Homo sapiens: one gene and its partners. The protein of the gene in region 1 interacts with the protein of each later gene in a pairwise test. Each region holds a gene or a part of one and is shown in the gene's direction. Other genes may lie near its edges.

Region 1 (3,277 bases):
TTGGTACCTTTTTTTTTTTTTTTTTTTTTTTTGAGACAGTCTCACTCTGTTGCCAGGTTGGAGTTCAGTGGCGTGATCTTGGCTCACTGCAACCTCCACCTCCCAGGTTCAGGTGATTCTCCTGCCTCAGCCTCCCGAGTAGCTGGGATTACAGGGATTACAGGCACATGCTACCATGCCCAGCTTATTTTTGTATTTTTAGTAGAGACGGGGTTTTACCATGTTGACCAGGCTGGTCTTGAACTCCTGGCCTGGCCTTAGGTGATCTGCCCGCCATGGCCTCCCAAAGTGCTGGGATTACAGGTGTGAGCCACCGTGCCTGGGCAGGAACCTTAATTTAAGGTTTTTTTTTTTTTTTTTTTTTGACATGGAGTCTCACTCTGTTGCCCAGGCTGGAGTGCAGTGGCGCCATCTCAGCTCACTGCAAGCTCCGCCTCCTGGGTTCACACCATTCTCCTGCCTCAGCCTCCCGAGTAGCTGGGACTACAGGCGCCCGCCACCATGCCCAGCTAATTTTTTGTATTTTTAGTAGAGATGGGGTTTCACCATGTTAGCCAGGATGGTCTCGATCTCCTGACCTCGTGATCCACCCGCCTCAGCCTCCCAAAGTGCTGGGATTACAGGCGTGAGCCACTGTGCCTGGCCTTTATTTTTTATTTTTAGTAGAGACGTCTTGCCATGTTGCCCAGGCAGCTTCTTGAACTCCTGAGCTCAAGTGATCCTCTTGCTTTGGCCTCCCAAAGTGCTGGGATTACAGGTGTGAAATAGCGTGCCAGCTCAGGTCCTTTGAGTGATAAGAGCAGAGACTTGGGTCTCCTCCTGGCCCCAAAATCCAGGCTCCCTGTCCACAGACCCCAGGCTGTTTACCCGCGGGCCCCAGGCTTCAAACAACTCAGGCACTAGCACTTGCCAGCAAGCTCAGGCCATCTGAGATAGGCATTTGGTACCCAGGTACCTCTTTGCCATACCCAAGAATTCAGGAACCAGCCCCCAAACCTAATCACCCTCACGCCACATGACCCTCCCCCAGGATCAAAGCACGGTGGGGTGGGGGGGGCCCTCACCTCATCATCTGACGCCAATCACTCTGTCCCCAGGCCACACCCCACTCCACGTGGCCGTTATCCACAAAGATGTGGAGATGGTCCGGCTGCTCCGAGATGCTGGAGCTGACCTTGACAAACCGGTGAGCCCCAACCTCGGGGAAGATGCCGTCGGCGGGAGGGGGCTTGTCCCCTCTTCGGGCCCTCTGACCTTTCTGTTGCACCCCCACAGGAGCCCACGTGCGGCCGGAGCCCCCTTCATTTGGCAGTGGAGGCCCAGGCAGCCGATGTGCTGGAGCTTCTCCTGAGGGCAGGCGCGAACCCTGCTGCCCGCATGTACGGTGGCCGCACCCCACTCGGCAGTGCCATGCTCCGGCCCAACCCCATCCTCGCCCGCCTCCTCCGTGCACACGGAGCCCCTGAGCCCGAGGGCGAGGACGAGAAATCCGGCCCCTGCAGCAGCAGTAGCGACAGCGACAGCGGAGACGAGGGCGTGAGTCAGGAGGAGAGACAGGGCAGCCCAGCTGGGGGGTCAGGATAGACCGGCAGGCAAGAAGCCCAAGAAGATAATTAGGCACCGACCTTGGGCTGCTGTTAGAGAACTCAGGCAGCAGCGCCAGTGACACGGGGCACTAGTCAGGAGAGACCTGGACAGGGGTGGTGGGAAGAGCTTGGGCAGAAGTGGCTGAAAAACTAAGGCAGTGGCAAAGGTAGAACTCAGGCAGGGGTGGAGAAAAGGCGTTGGTCGCAGTGATTGGTGAACACAGCGGGGGTGGGTGGTAGCGCTGGGGGTGATTTTAGGCAGCAAGAATTGGAGAACTCACACTGCGAAAAGAAAACCTTGGGTGGCAGTGATTTGAACACCGGCAGTGCTGGGGCAGGACCCGAGCCAGCGGTGGGGAGAGATATAGTCAGAGAACCCAGCAATACAGATCCGTCCTTGGGCAAGGCGCGGTGCTGGATGATGGGTGCGGAGGAATTTGGGTAAAGGCAGAGGGAAGGGGTGGAGGAGGGCCAGCTCAGTTGCCGAAACTCTGGAGTGGCGGCTGGCTAGAAATTGGTCTGTAGAAATGACCTTGAAAATGGAGTTCTGGCCAGGTGCGGTGGCTCACGCCTGTAATCCCAGCACTTTGGGAGGCCGAGGCAGGCAGATCACGAGGTCAGGAGTTCGAGACCAGCCTGGCCAACATGGCAAGACCCTGTCTCTACTAAAAATACAAAAATTAGCTGGGCGTGGTGGCGCATGCCTATAATCCCAGCTACTTGGGAGGCTGAGGTAGGAGAATTGCTTGAACCTGGGAGGTGGAGGTTGCAGTGAACCTAGATCACGCCACTGCATTCCAGCCTGGGCAACAGAGCGAGACTCCATCTTAAAAAAAAAAAAAAAAAAAAGAAAGAAAAGAAAATGGAGTTCTGAGAGCTAGGAAACTGGGAGGTTGAGCCAGGAGCAGGGGAACTTGGGCTTTGAGGCGAGACCTAATTCTTAGGGTGCTCTATGAGGACATGGGTGGTGGGCAAAGTGACAGCCGCCTGAGCCCCTCTGCCTGGTCCCCTTTGCCCCCAGGATGAATACGACGACATTGTGGTTCACAGCAGCCGCAGCCAAACCCGGCTGCCTCCCACCCCAGCCTCAAAACCTCTTCCTGACGACCCCCGCCCCGTGTGATTTGTTTCATTGTTAATATAATTTCCAGTTTAATAAACAAAACCCTAGTTCTGACAACCAGAGACCAGACTGATCTTGTCTTCCCAGTCCTCCGGGTCCTTCTGGGGCCCATCCCTGTCACATCAAGTGCTGCTCACGGAGGCAGGGTGCGTTTCTTTGTGCTTTATTCACTCAGAAGGGTTGGAGTGGGAGTGCATAGGTGTGGGGGTGCTTCCTGTGTCAGGGCTGAGCCCAGCCCCCGGCCCAGCTCAGACTCACCTCCTTGGGTGTGGTTCCAAGGCACGTCCGCCTCCTCCCCTGTTTGGGTAGGGGTGGCGTGGGGTGCTAGGTGAGGTGGAGGCTTCGGGGTCAACAGTCCTAAGCCACAGGGTGTGTCAGGAGGAAGGAGGGACTGAGGTAGGGGTCAGCCCTCCCTCCTGAGCTGCTCCCCCAGCGTCTCTGTCACCTTCTTCAGTTCGTCTCTCAAGTGCTCCAGCTGCTCCACCTCCTTTTCCTGGTGGGGTCAGAAACGGGGTAGTCAGCACCCACCTTCAAAGGCAGGCCACCTCGGTCACTGTGATTGTGGGCC
Region 2 (3,566 bases), about 35 Mb from region 1:
GTACATGCGCACACATACATGCACATGCATGCAAACATGCACCCACAGACACACATATATGCACACACACGCAAACAGACACACCCCACCTCTTGGGCCCAAAGCCAACGAACGCTTCCCTGACCCACGTGGCTGTTAAGAACAGCCTAGACCAGGCCCTGCCCTTGTGGGTGGACATCCCGGTGGGTGACAGCACAGGCCAGACATAAGATGACAGCCACATCATATGCAAAGCGTGCCGGACAGGGTTGAGCTGCGGGAGGTGGGCGGGAAGGCACAGTCGTTCTTCCTTCCTGGAGGGCTGGTTCTTCTCTTCTGCACTTTTGGATTTTTTTCTTTTTCTGCTTTGGGAGAGGGTGACAGGCCCTCAGGCTTAGGGAGGGACAGCCCAGGCCGTGGAGCGGCTTCTGAGTTTCCCGTGAGCCTGGGTCATTTGCTTCAATCAGCCAACATTTATGAAGCGTCTGCTGGTGCCAGGCCTGTTCTAGGCGCCGGGGACAGGCCTTGCCGGAACCTGAAGGAGGGGAGGAGCAGCTGTGGGAAAGGGCGTTCCAGGCAGAGGGAACAGCCAGTGCAGAGGCCCTGAGGCCAGCTCAGCTTGAGAGATCACTGTGCCCCCCTGGGAGCCACAGGACTTGGTCCCTAAACAGCAGGAGTTCAAGGCCAGGCCCGGGCAGTTTGCAATTCGGTCTCAGGAGTCCAGAGGTGGCTGGCTGGGCCTCGTAGATCCGGGGCGGGCTGTAGCGGTGGGGGCAGGGGGCTGGCAGGCAGGGACCTGGCCAGGCTGGGTGACTCAGCACCACCCCCTGCCCCCCGCCCGCCCTGGGGTTCCCCCAGCCACGCCCACCGAGGCTGAAGAAAGAGGCCATTGTCCCAGCTTCCCAACCCCACCCCGTGGGGACAGGAACTGGGACTGACCCCTCCCCAGCACCCCGGCCCCCTCCCCAGCAGGCCAGGAGAGGAAGGTGCGGCCTGGACTCCGGCGCCCAGGAGTGCCAGGCAGGGGGCAAAGGGCACTTTGGGAGGCAGGCAGTGTAGCTGGTGGTTTGTCCCTCCTTGGTGAGGTTGGGGTACTGGAGGTCTTGGGGGGCTCCTCTTCCTCCAGGCAGGGGTCACTGTGGGTTCGTCTCTGAGCTCAGGAAGAGCAGCTTGGTGGGGTGCAGAGAACTGGGGTCTGCAGAGGGGACCAGGCTGAGCGAAGGTGGTGACCCCCACCCTGCCTCCCTGGCCGCAGGCCACAGGCCCGGTTTCATTCTGACTCGGGCACTGCTGGCTATCCCACCCGACCCGGGGCTGATCCCCTCAGTCAGAGAAACTGAGGCTTAGAGAGGGACAATTGTGGAGACCTCTTCCTCCCACCCCAATTTAGACCCACCTGCTTCCTCTTTTCCCCCACCCCGTGCTCTGGTCCCCCCTCCCCAGGACACCAGCACCTCCACCCTCCAAAAGCCTGGGAGCCCGAGGCCCCTCTGAGTCACAGCAGGGCGTTGAGTAAGTGGGGCCTGTGGTGGCCGGGGCTATAATTACCCAGGCTGGGGCTCGGGGTGATGAAACTAGGGATACCTCCGCCCCCACCCCGCCTCTGCGTGGCCCTCTGGCCTGCTGTGCAGCTCCAGGCAAGTCCCTTCCTCTCTCTGGGCCTCCCAGGCTCATCTGGGGAGTCTCTGCACGGTTCTAGAAAAACCTAGTGGCTGCCATCCCCTCTGTGACCCCGGCCCTGTGCCAGATCTGGGCAAGGCAGCCCGGAGACCTTGCCGTGGGCTTTGCAGAAGGTGATCAGTAAACCAGAGGCCTGGAGGCTGGTAACAGACCTGGTTAGGCCAGGGTTCTGTTAGCAAGTTACCACGTTCTGTTGGCTTCAGTGGGGCAGCAAGGCTAGAGATAAGGTAGGGGTCTGGTTGCCAAGGGCCAGGCCTTGACCCTCAGGGCAACAGAGCCAAGGAGGGGTTAAAGTTAGGGACACCAGCTCTGTAGCTGGTGCCAGAGGGAGGGACTTAGGGCTGGAGGAACCCAGAGGGGAGCCAGGTCTTTGGGAATTAGGAAAGGTAGAGGGGCATTCAAGGTAGGGCTTTGAGGGATGAGTAGGAGTTTGCCAGTCCCCACACTAAAGAAGTCTTCAGTCTATTGAGTGTGAGAAGGAAGAAACCCGAGGTGGCTCAGATGTGGGGCACAACAGGCAGCAGCAAGGAGTAGGTCAGGTTCTAGCCAGGGCTCTTGAGACCCAGGGCTCCCTCCTGCCCTCCGGATCCCAGGAAGGAGTACACTTTATTACTATAGATTGGCATCACTCAATGGGAATAGGCAAGACACCTACTTTTTTTTTTTTTTTTTTTTTTTTTTTTGAGACGAGTCTTGCTCTGTCGCCCAGGCTGGAGTGCAGTGGCACGATCTCAGCTCACTGCAACCTCCACCTCCCAGGTTCAAGCGATTCTCCTGCCTCAGCTTCCCAAGTAGCTGGGATTATAGGCGCCCACCACCATGCCGGCTAATTTTTGTATTTTTAGTAGAGACGGGGTTTCACCACGTTGGCCAGGCTGGTCTCGAACTCCTGACCTCAGGTGATCTGCCCGCCTTAGCCTCCCAAAGCGCTGGGGTTACAGGTGTGAGCCACCATGCCCGGCCAGCAAGCCACTTACATATTTTTACATTTTCTGACAGCCCCGTTCAAAAAAAGTCAAAGAGAGTTGGTGAAAGTGACTTGAAACATTTTACCTAACCCAGTAGATGCATTTCCATGTGTAGTCAATGTGCACGATCCTCATTGAGCCATTTTACATCACCTTTTGCATATCAAGTCTTCAAAAGCTGGGGTACCTTTTGCACTTCCAGCGCACATCAGTTCAGAGTGGCCACATTCCAAGGGTTCAGGAGCCACCTAGGCCACAGGCACCCCACTGATATGGTGACCGGCTTTGTAGGCTAGAGGCTCCAGGCTAAGCTGGGTCCACGCTGCCCCCATGGGGCGAGACAGGCAGGGAGGGGCCCTCAAGTCACACCCAACCCCTGCCTTCTCGGGGCTCACAATCCAATCAGGGAGACAGAGGAGAAACAAGGAAATCAACAGAAACAAGAGAGACCGGCCGGGCGCGGTGGCTCACGCCTGTAATCCCAGCACTTTGGGAGGCCGAGGCAGGCGGATCACTTGAGGTCAGGAGTTCAAGACCAGCCCAGCCAACATGGTGAAAACCCTGTCTCCATTAAAAATACAAAAATCAGCCAGGTGTGGTGGCGCACGCCTGTAATCCCAGCGTTTGGGGAGGCCGAGGCGGGTGGATCACCTGAGGTCAGGAGTCCGAGACCAGCCCGGCCAACATGGTGAAACCCCGTCTCTACTAAAAATACAAAAATGAGCCAGGTGTGGTGGCAGAGGGCCTGTAATCCCAGCTACTTGGGAGGCTGAGGCAGAAGAATTGCTTGAACCCGGGAGACGGAAGTTGCAGTGAGCGGAGACCACACCACTGCGCTCAAGCCTGGAAGATAGAGCGAGACTCGGTCTCAGAAAAAAAAACAATAGAAGAGTCAGGTGGTGATGACAGGAGGATGGAGACAGGGCTGGGGAAGGAGGT
Region 3 (4,186 bases), on another chromosome or scaffold:
TTCCCACAGCTTAGCACCCCCATCATACACACACTCGAGCACAAACACACACTCTCACAGACACAGATACACACAGACACAAGTGTGGGCATGAGTGCATGCACACACACATACTACACACTCATATAGGGGAGGGAGGCTTCTGGGTCCCAGGGCCGCAGGGGCAGGGAAGTCTGGTGAGTGTGTCTGCATGCGTGTATGTCTGTGTGTGCCTGGGTTTGCATGAGTGTGAAGGCATGTGTCTGCATCTGGGTGCTTGTGTGCTTGTGTCTGGGTGCATGCATGTTTCTGTCTGTGTTCATTTAGAGGCATGCGTATGTGTTGTTACATATATCGTGTGGGGATCTATGCATTTGTGTCTGCGTATATCTGCTTATAGTATGTGCTTGCATGCATGTGTGTGGTTGTTGCAGTATGTGTCTATGAGTTCACTTATATTTACATGTCTGCATGTGTTTGTGAACTGTGTCATGTATCTTTATATGTATGGCCCCTCTTGGGCCCTTGAGCATGGCCCAAGCACCTTCTAGCTTTGACTGATGTTCAGCAACCCCCATCCCATAACCTGAGGAGCCCAGCACCGTCTGGGCATGGTGTGTCAGTGAATTCTCTGCCTCAACCCCCCTCAGGGTCCCAGTCTCTGGCAAGAGTTGGGGTAGATAGACATAAGCACAATTCACTTTCCCTTCACAGGCAGCAAAGGACATTAGCCACACTTCCTGAACCCCAGGGGGCCAGGCCACCAAAGGTCTCAGGGTTCACTCCCTTCCCTAGCCCCTTGGGAAGGTAGCCTGGAAATGCAGCCAGATCTCGGACCGGTGCAACACGTATTAGCCCATGCATGATGCAACATATTCGAGACAGAGTCCTACAAAATGTTCCCAGCGACTAAGACACAACCCCACAGAAACCCGGTTACAGCCAGTGACACATGAGCACACACTCAGAAATCCAAATGGAAAATCCCCAGGCCAGAGAGCTTAGCACCCTCCCTACTTTCTGGGCTCAAACTCAGTCTTGCCCCACCCCTAAGCACCCCAGCTCAGCTGCCAGTTCTGGAAAACACTGACCTCAGAGAATGGTTGAAGGGCCGAAGGTAGTATGCCTTTCTCAGAATCTCACCCTTCTCCATGTTCTCCTCCTTTAGGCTGTTCCCCATCCCCCTCCTGACCTTCACTTTTCTTACCAGGGCTGATGTCCTCTCCGGCACACCCATACCCTCACAAACGCTCCTTGACACTCACAGTCAGTCACAGAGGCACATTAAATCACAAAGGCACATTCAGCCACATCTACTGATACTCCTATTCTCCCGGCCTCAGACACACACACCAGCAGCTACACCTACACGCTGACCATCACAGGCACACAGAGGCACATCCACCTCACATCCACCTCATACTTGTGTACTCTCAGGGTTCAGTCTTTCATCCTATCCCTCTCTGATCTGTGCCTCCCAATACCTTCCAAGATGTTTACAGAGACCCTTCTCCCTGTGCAGTTAGGAGTGTAAGGCAAGAGAGCCCCTACTTCATGGGGCAGATCAAGAGCTGAGACCAAAGATGGTCTATGTTGCTGACCTTGTCCTGTCCTCCTGCTGTCTTAAACTATGATCCCTGCTGCGGTCACTGAAGCCTTTCCCTGTAAGTATTCAGCCATAACCCTCCCCTCACGCCCTGCATAGTCAGCTGGTTAACACCTCTGTGTGGAATAAGGCAGTTTGAGCAGAATGACTGTATTTGTTGTTCACCACCCACACGGCCCCTAGGAGATGCAGGTCCAGGGCAAACCAAGCTTCTGGGCTAGCTTCTGGGCACTTCTAGAGGATCAGAAAAATCCCAGGTTGCCTGAGATGTCTGAGAACTGAGGAGAGGAAGGAGAGGGAAGAGTTTGAGGAAGGAAGCAGTTCTGGAAGTTCCCTGCCTCTTGGATTCAGCCCCTCCCCAAACCCTCTGCTTCCAGCCAATCCATCCTCCATTAAGGCTGTCAGCACTTTGGGGTGCCTGCCATCAGGAGTCCCCCATATATGTAGGGGTGCTATTTCACAGAGATCATCCTTTGGCGTGCCTAAACAGAACCAGGTAGGGAAATCTTCACTGGCTCTGGTTTTTTTTTTTTTTTCTTGAGACAGAGTCTAGCTCTGTCACCCAGGCTGGAGTGCAGTGGCGCGATCTTGGCTCACTGCAACCTCTGCCTCCCGGGTTCAAGCAATTCTCCTGCCTCAGCCTCCCAAGTAGCTGGGACTAAAGGCGTGTGCCACCACGCCCGGCTAATTTTTTTTTGTATTTTTAGTAGAGATGGGATTTCACCGTGTTAGCCAGGATGGTCTCGATCTCCTGACCTTGTGATCTGCCCGCCTTGGCCTCCCAAAGTGCCGGGATTACAGGCATGAGCCACCGCACCCAGCCTAGTGGCTCTGTTTTTTAAAACCCCACCCTGGCTCACAGGCCCCCTGGCTAACCTTGAGGTGGGAAGATCCACACTATGGTGGTGTCAGTGTGGGTGTTGTTGATACCCATGGCCCTGGTGGCAGGATTGATGGCTGCACTGCTGGCAGTTCGACCTCGGAGACCCTGTTGATATCTTCTGCGGCTACACTTGAACATCCTGGGAAATCGGGGCCTGGGCCAGCCCATACCTGGCCTGCGGTAGGGGGAACGCATGCCCTGGGGCCGAGGGCCACGGACAAGCCGAGATGGCCCCATGGGCACAGGGAGCTTCTGCAGTGTGCCTGGGGGGTGCTGTTGGCCAGGGTAGCTGAGGCCTCTATGACATACAAAGTCTGCATAAGGGCAGGGCCCTTTATTACAAGTCGTGGGCCCTGGCCCCTCCTCATGGGTCAGGCTCCTTCACAATCTTCTTTATTGGGTCTGGCCTAAAAGCCAGCCCAAGAGCCAGACAGCCTCAGTTTGGCCCCTTGGGAAAAGAGGCCCTAGAGGCGGAACTCACTTCCTCACTTTCTCACTTATCCATATAGTAACAATATTAACAATGTTTTTTGAGCACTTACTACGTGCCAGACACTGTGCTGAGCACTTTACCAACGTTATCTCATTTAATCTCAGCTACTTTACAAGGATATGCCATCATTATACCTATTTATATACAGTCAATTCTCATTATTCCCAGTAATGTTCTATAAAGTCGCCACAAACACTAAATACTGAACAAAGGGTAAATGCAAGGTTAGGTTCCTGAAACCCTCTGGTCACAATATTTTTGTCAACTGATCTATACATATAACCTGATTTTATGTGTGGAGACACCTTATTTAATATATATTGTTGGCCAGGCATGGTGGCTCAAGCCTGTAATCCCAGCACTTTGGGAGGCCGAGGTGGGCAGATCACCTGAGGTCAGGAGTTCAAGACTAGCCTGGTTAACATGGCAAAACCCCATCTCTACTAAAAATACAAAAATTAGCTGGGTGTGGTGGTGGGTGCCTGTAGTCCCAGCTACTCAGGAGGCTGAGACAGGAGAATAGCTTGAACCCAGGAGGTGGAGATTGCAGTGAGCCCAGATTGCACCATTGCACTCCAGCCTGGGCAACAAGAGTGAAACTCTGTCTCAAAAAAAAAAAAAATATATCTATCTATCTATCTATCTATCTATCTAACTATCTATCTATATTTGAGTCATTGACATTGAACTCACAGCCAACAGCATTATAACTTGTGCCTGAATGAAACTTATCTAAAGCACATATTTCCCCTATAAGGCACATCACAGCCTTCTTGCACTTAGAAAGACTAGAGAGCACTTCAGCACTACAACTGGGGACCATTTTAGACAGTAAAATCACCAGCAAAAAACACCAAAAAATGTGAGAATATGCGTCACTAAATAGACCACCAAAAAGCACATTTGTTTACTCTATGAAAACTGAAATAAGAAGACAGAGAGTCCTCTTGCTCAACAGACCTCAGCTGGAAATACGTGTGTTGGACGGCTGAAATTTTTTGCCTTTCTGCTCATGTCCATGAATGACTGCAAAAGTACCACAAGTACTGGTTTGGGAATTACAAATAAATTTCAGTAAGCAGGCAAATTCACAGGTATGGAATCTGTGAATAAGGAGGATCCACTGTATAAGGAAACTGGGGCTCAGTGAGGTGAAGTCACACAATTAGAGGCAGGCAGGAAGCAAATCCATGATGATCAAGATCCAAAACCCAGAGCACTTAAC
Region 4 (3,566 bases), on another chromosome or scaffold:
TTGAGCTGTTAGTCTTTAATGTTCTCGTCATCTCAGATTGTGAACGTTTTCCCAATTTATTTTTAGAGCCTAGATTCAGATTTATCAGATGGACCAGTCACTGTACAGGAATTTATGGAGGTCAAAAACGCTCTAGTGGCTTCTGAGGCCAAGATACAGCAGCTAATGAAGGTGAATAACAACTTGAGTGACGAGCTGAGAATTATGCAGAAAAAGGTAACATGTTAATAAATGCCAGGACGGTTGACGCTTTAATCCCATAGTACAAGGAAGAATCTCAGGCACTGTGATGTGGTCCGAGGAAAGAAAAACAGTTATTGTAACAGCCTTAGAAATCTTTGGGCCAAGTTGTCTTTTTGAAGCAGGATGTATTTGGATATTTAAAATGAAATATATCCAGAGTAAGTTCCCCAGGTAGGAGAAACCTAACATCTATTTAAGCATTTGTGCCCATTAGAATAACCCTTGGACTATTCTGTGCTTCCTGGAAACCTGGATGGGGCTCCATGGATGTGATTCTTCCCATTGCTAGGGAAGGATGATCACACCATGGAGACAGAGCCAATGAGAGCCCTGGGCAGGGGCATGTTTATCAGCATTCAAACCCTGCTCCCACCCTGGCAGCCCTATCCCACATCCCCACCTTATTGCTCACCAGTTTTTACTACTAACTTGTATTATCCCCAGAGCCTACAGGAGGGCCTGCCACAGAGTAGGTGCTCAAAAAATAAGAAAAAACATTTCATTTGTACTAGGAAGAGCTGCACACTGGTAAAAAACAATCTCATTTGCTCAGCATTTTCTCATTCATTACCTTTTGAGAGAATCAGAACCGTGTGAATATATTAATCCCTAAAAGGAGTGTGGTTGATGGTAGCAAGGAATACCCTTAGTAGGAGGGGGATTGTGTATGCAACTCCTTATGAGATGGCTAAATAAGGGAATTCGAAAAATTGCAAATTTTGCCCATGACTTTGTGGGTATCACTCATCATTCAGCTCTAAAATGAGATTTGGACACTTTACTTAACCAGAAACAAAATGAAATATATAATCTATGTCTTTAGGCTGTCATTTGAGAAGTAAGGTTTTCAAATCATTTTCAAGACCTGAGGACGTGGCACACTCCATGTGTGCCTGGACTCTTTTCAGTGCTGCTTCCTAAAGGAAGGTGGAAGAACTAAAAAGGGGCCCATGCCCCTCTGTTTACTAGGGAAGGAAATTGCTGTGCACTTTTGCCTGGGGTTTGGTCTAGGATTCTTTTGATGTTGACTTCTAGAGCATTTTTGAGACTTTTTGAAATAAATGGCTCTAATGCCTATAGTAGCAGGGAATGAAGAATGCTTAAGATCAGCTAGCCTTAAACGAACAGACACTTGTTCTGTGTCTCCCAGCCCTGTCTAGGGCTGCCGTGCAGCTGTAAACGAGACAGACCGAGAGCCCCTTTGTCATAACATACAGGACCTGTATTTTCTTTGCCTTCTTTGGAATATATTTTATTTAGTGGATTATAGTTTGTTCCATTAATTGGACTAATAATTTTGACCAGGTGACTATTTCTGAAACATGCTGATTTTGCCACTGTAAATCAATCTGCTGCACATCACCTTTTAAAATCTAACAATGCTTCTTTTAGTATTTTTGGAAATCACCAGAGAGAGCCTCATTATCTCTGAAAGCAAATGTCTTGAGCTTCTTTGAGAAATGCAAAGTGAAATTATTTGCTTTTGCTTATTGATTATCTCATCAATTCTTAGAAGTGCTTTTGATTTCTGAAACTATTGAATTGTCTATAACTTTTTATTTTCCCTTATACTCCTTCCAAATAAAAAAGTGTAGCCTGGTTCTTATTAAGATAAACGTCATTAAAATTTATGTGAAGACATCTCTCTAAATACAGAGTACTAACATTTTTAAAAATTGAAACCAAGAACTTGTGCTCATGAGAACACATTCAGACAAAATCCAGGCATGAAAAGTGTTAGGATAAAGTTTCAGATTTCAAGGCCTTAACTAAATAACTGCCACAGAGGCTTTTTATACAGACAAACACGTGATCACATGCACCAGTGCCCCATTGAGGGACCTGTGTCAGTTACACACCTCAGTCCTTGAACCTTGACCATTTCACTCTAGGCCCTGGGTTCTCTAATGAATAGTTTCAACAGGCACTTCATGCCTGTCTGTATCCTGGAATGTAGAAATGTTCAGGGCTGCTTTGTCAGCTGCTTTGCAGCTGTTCTTTCCCTGGAAAGGGAATTGCAGATATGAGCTATACCCTGCCAGCCTTTGTGATATAAAAGCATTCTATCATTCTGTAATGGCTTGCTCTTCAGAGAAACAGAATGAGTGGTCTTTTTGTGGAAGAGGCAGTAAGTCACACTTTCACAGCAGTTTGGCATGATTAATATAAAGTATATGGAATTTGTTTATTTAGCAAAGATGTATTGATTATATTTCAAAGTTGGGTAAAGTTTTTAATATACATAAAGTTGACAAAGTAGCATGATTTGTATCTGATCTTTCACATTTAACAGTTGCTTGGAAAAGATGCTAATTAATGAAGAGGAGCAACTACTATTGGTGTATTTTTCACAGATTGGTGCTTTCTAAATAAAAATTGAAAGTAACTCCTAACATTGAATGGGTTTGCTACTGAAAAAGTAATGATCTTCTGGTGCAAACAGTTGCTTGTGGACTTAAACCTTGGCACTGGTGGGGAATTTGGTCAGATTTTACAATCTCTGTCAAAGAGTAGACAGCTGAACTCACACCACACCCAGCTTATAGAATGTCCATGGAAGATGAAGGCGCACCAGAAGGGAAGGACCCTGCGCAGAATGGACGTGGTGAATGGTGTTTAAAATGCCAGATGCCAAAGAGTAACACGATTCCCTGCTGACCCCTTAACTCTAATCCATCCAGCACCATGGAGCAGCCTGCATGTGAGGAATGGAAGGAGCATTCAGGGCCTCCAAGTGACAGTCTCTAAAATGGGGTGGTGCCAGGCAGATTAGCATGTTCAAAGCTGACACCACTGAGGTCGTGTTTTTTGGGTGACAAAGCCAAAGGAGAGAAAGGCCAAATATTCCAGCCCTGGCCGAAAGATGATCACTCACCAGACGGAAGCAAGCGTGCTGCGTGGAGCATCCATGCGAAGATGTCAATTCCATAGATCAATAGGTTTCCAGTTTTCTTCGTGATATGTTAATATAGCAAACTTACCATGATCCGGTTTTCTCTTTTTTCTTTTTTTTTTTACAAAGTGCTGAATTGTTTGGAATATCAAGAGTATTATGTAATAAAAACTTGTTGATCATAATTTTTCTTGTTGGCTTTTTGGAAAGCAATAGGCGATCTGATTTTTCACAAGCTGAACTTCTGTCTTTCTTGCTTTGCAAAGCAACCCTAGTCATCTTTGTGCTGCTTCCATGGTGTCTGCTGTCATTTTTGGCCTTTACAAATTGCTCAGGGCTCATTTGAAAAGCAAGTTACCTAAATGATGTTTTAATGATCTCGAACTCTTGCTTGAAACAGCCTTAGTAATAATCCAGTGTACAGCTTGCC

What was found.
Region 2: the proteins of NFKBIB (region 1) and ZBTB7A interact in a two-hybrid assay, tested with the Homo sapiens proteins (one study listed by BioGRID).
Region 3: the proteins of NFKBIB (region 1) and TSPAN1 interact in a two-hybrid assay, tested with the Homo sapiens proteins (one large-scale study listed by BioGRID and IntAct).
Region 4: the proteins of NFKBIB (region 1) and GIT2 interact in a two-hybrid assay, tested with the Homo sapiens proteins (one large-scale study listed by BioGRID and IntAct).

The regions. Positions count from the first base shown.
Region 1 is NC_000019.10:38,906,124-38,909,400, forward strand, and holds the end of NFKBIB (NF-kappa-B inhibitor beta), read left to right. Parts: intron 1-1,097; coding exon 1,098-1,186; intron 1,187-1,275; coding exon 1,276-1,536; coding exon of another isoform or gene 1,537-1,584; exon of another isoform or gene 1,585-2,607; coding exon 2,608-2,709; 3' UTR 2,710-2,766; downstream 2,767-3,277. UniProt on the Homo sapiens protein: Inhibits NF-kappa-B by complexing with and trapping it in the cytoplasm.
Region 2 is NC_000019.10:4,049,873-4,053,438, reverse strand, and holds part of ZBTB7A (zinc finger and BTB domain-containing protein 7A), read left to right. Parts: intron 1-3,566. UniProt on the Homo sapiens protein: Transcription factor that represses the transcription of a wide range of genes involved in cell proliferation and differentiation.
Region 3 is NC_000001.11:46,173,767-46,177,952, forward strand, and holds the start of TSPAN1 (tetraspanin-1), read left to right. Parts: upstream 1-1,320; 5' UTR 1,321-1,643; intron 1,644-1,719; exon of another isoform or gene 1,720-1,819; coding exon of another isoform or gene 1,820-1,863; intron 1,864-1,962; exon of another isoform or gene 1,963-2,081; intron 2,082-2,461; coding exon of another isoform or gene 2,462-2,705; exon of another isoform or gene 2,706-2,722; intron 2,723-3,892; exon of another isoform or gene 3,893-4,055; intron 4,056-4,186. Other genes in the region: P3R3URF-PIK3R3 (LOC110117498-PIK3R3 readthrough), read right to left, coding at 2,462-2,705; P3R3URF protein, read right to left, coding at 1,820-1,863, 2,462-2,705. UniProt on the Homo sapiens protein: Structural component of specialized membrane microdomains known as tetraspanin-enriched microdomains (TERMs), which act as platforms for receptor clustering and signaling.
Region 4 is NC_000012.12:109,947,817-109,951,382, reverse strand, and holds part of GIT2 (ARF GTPase-activating protein GIT2), read left to right. Parts: intron 1-66; coding exon 67-216; intron 217-2,536; coding exon of another isoform or gene 2,537-2,560; exon of another isoform or gene 2,561-3,566. UniProt on the Homo sapiens protein: GTPase-activating protein for ADP ribosylation factor family members, including ARF1.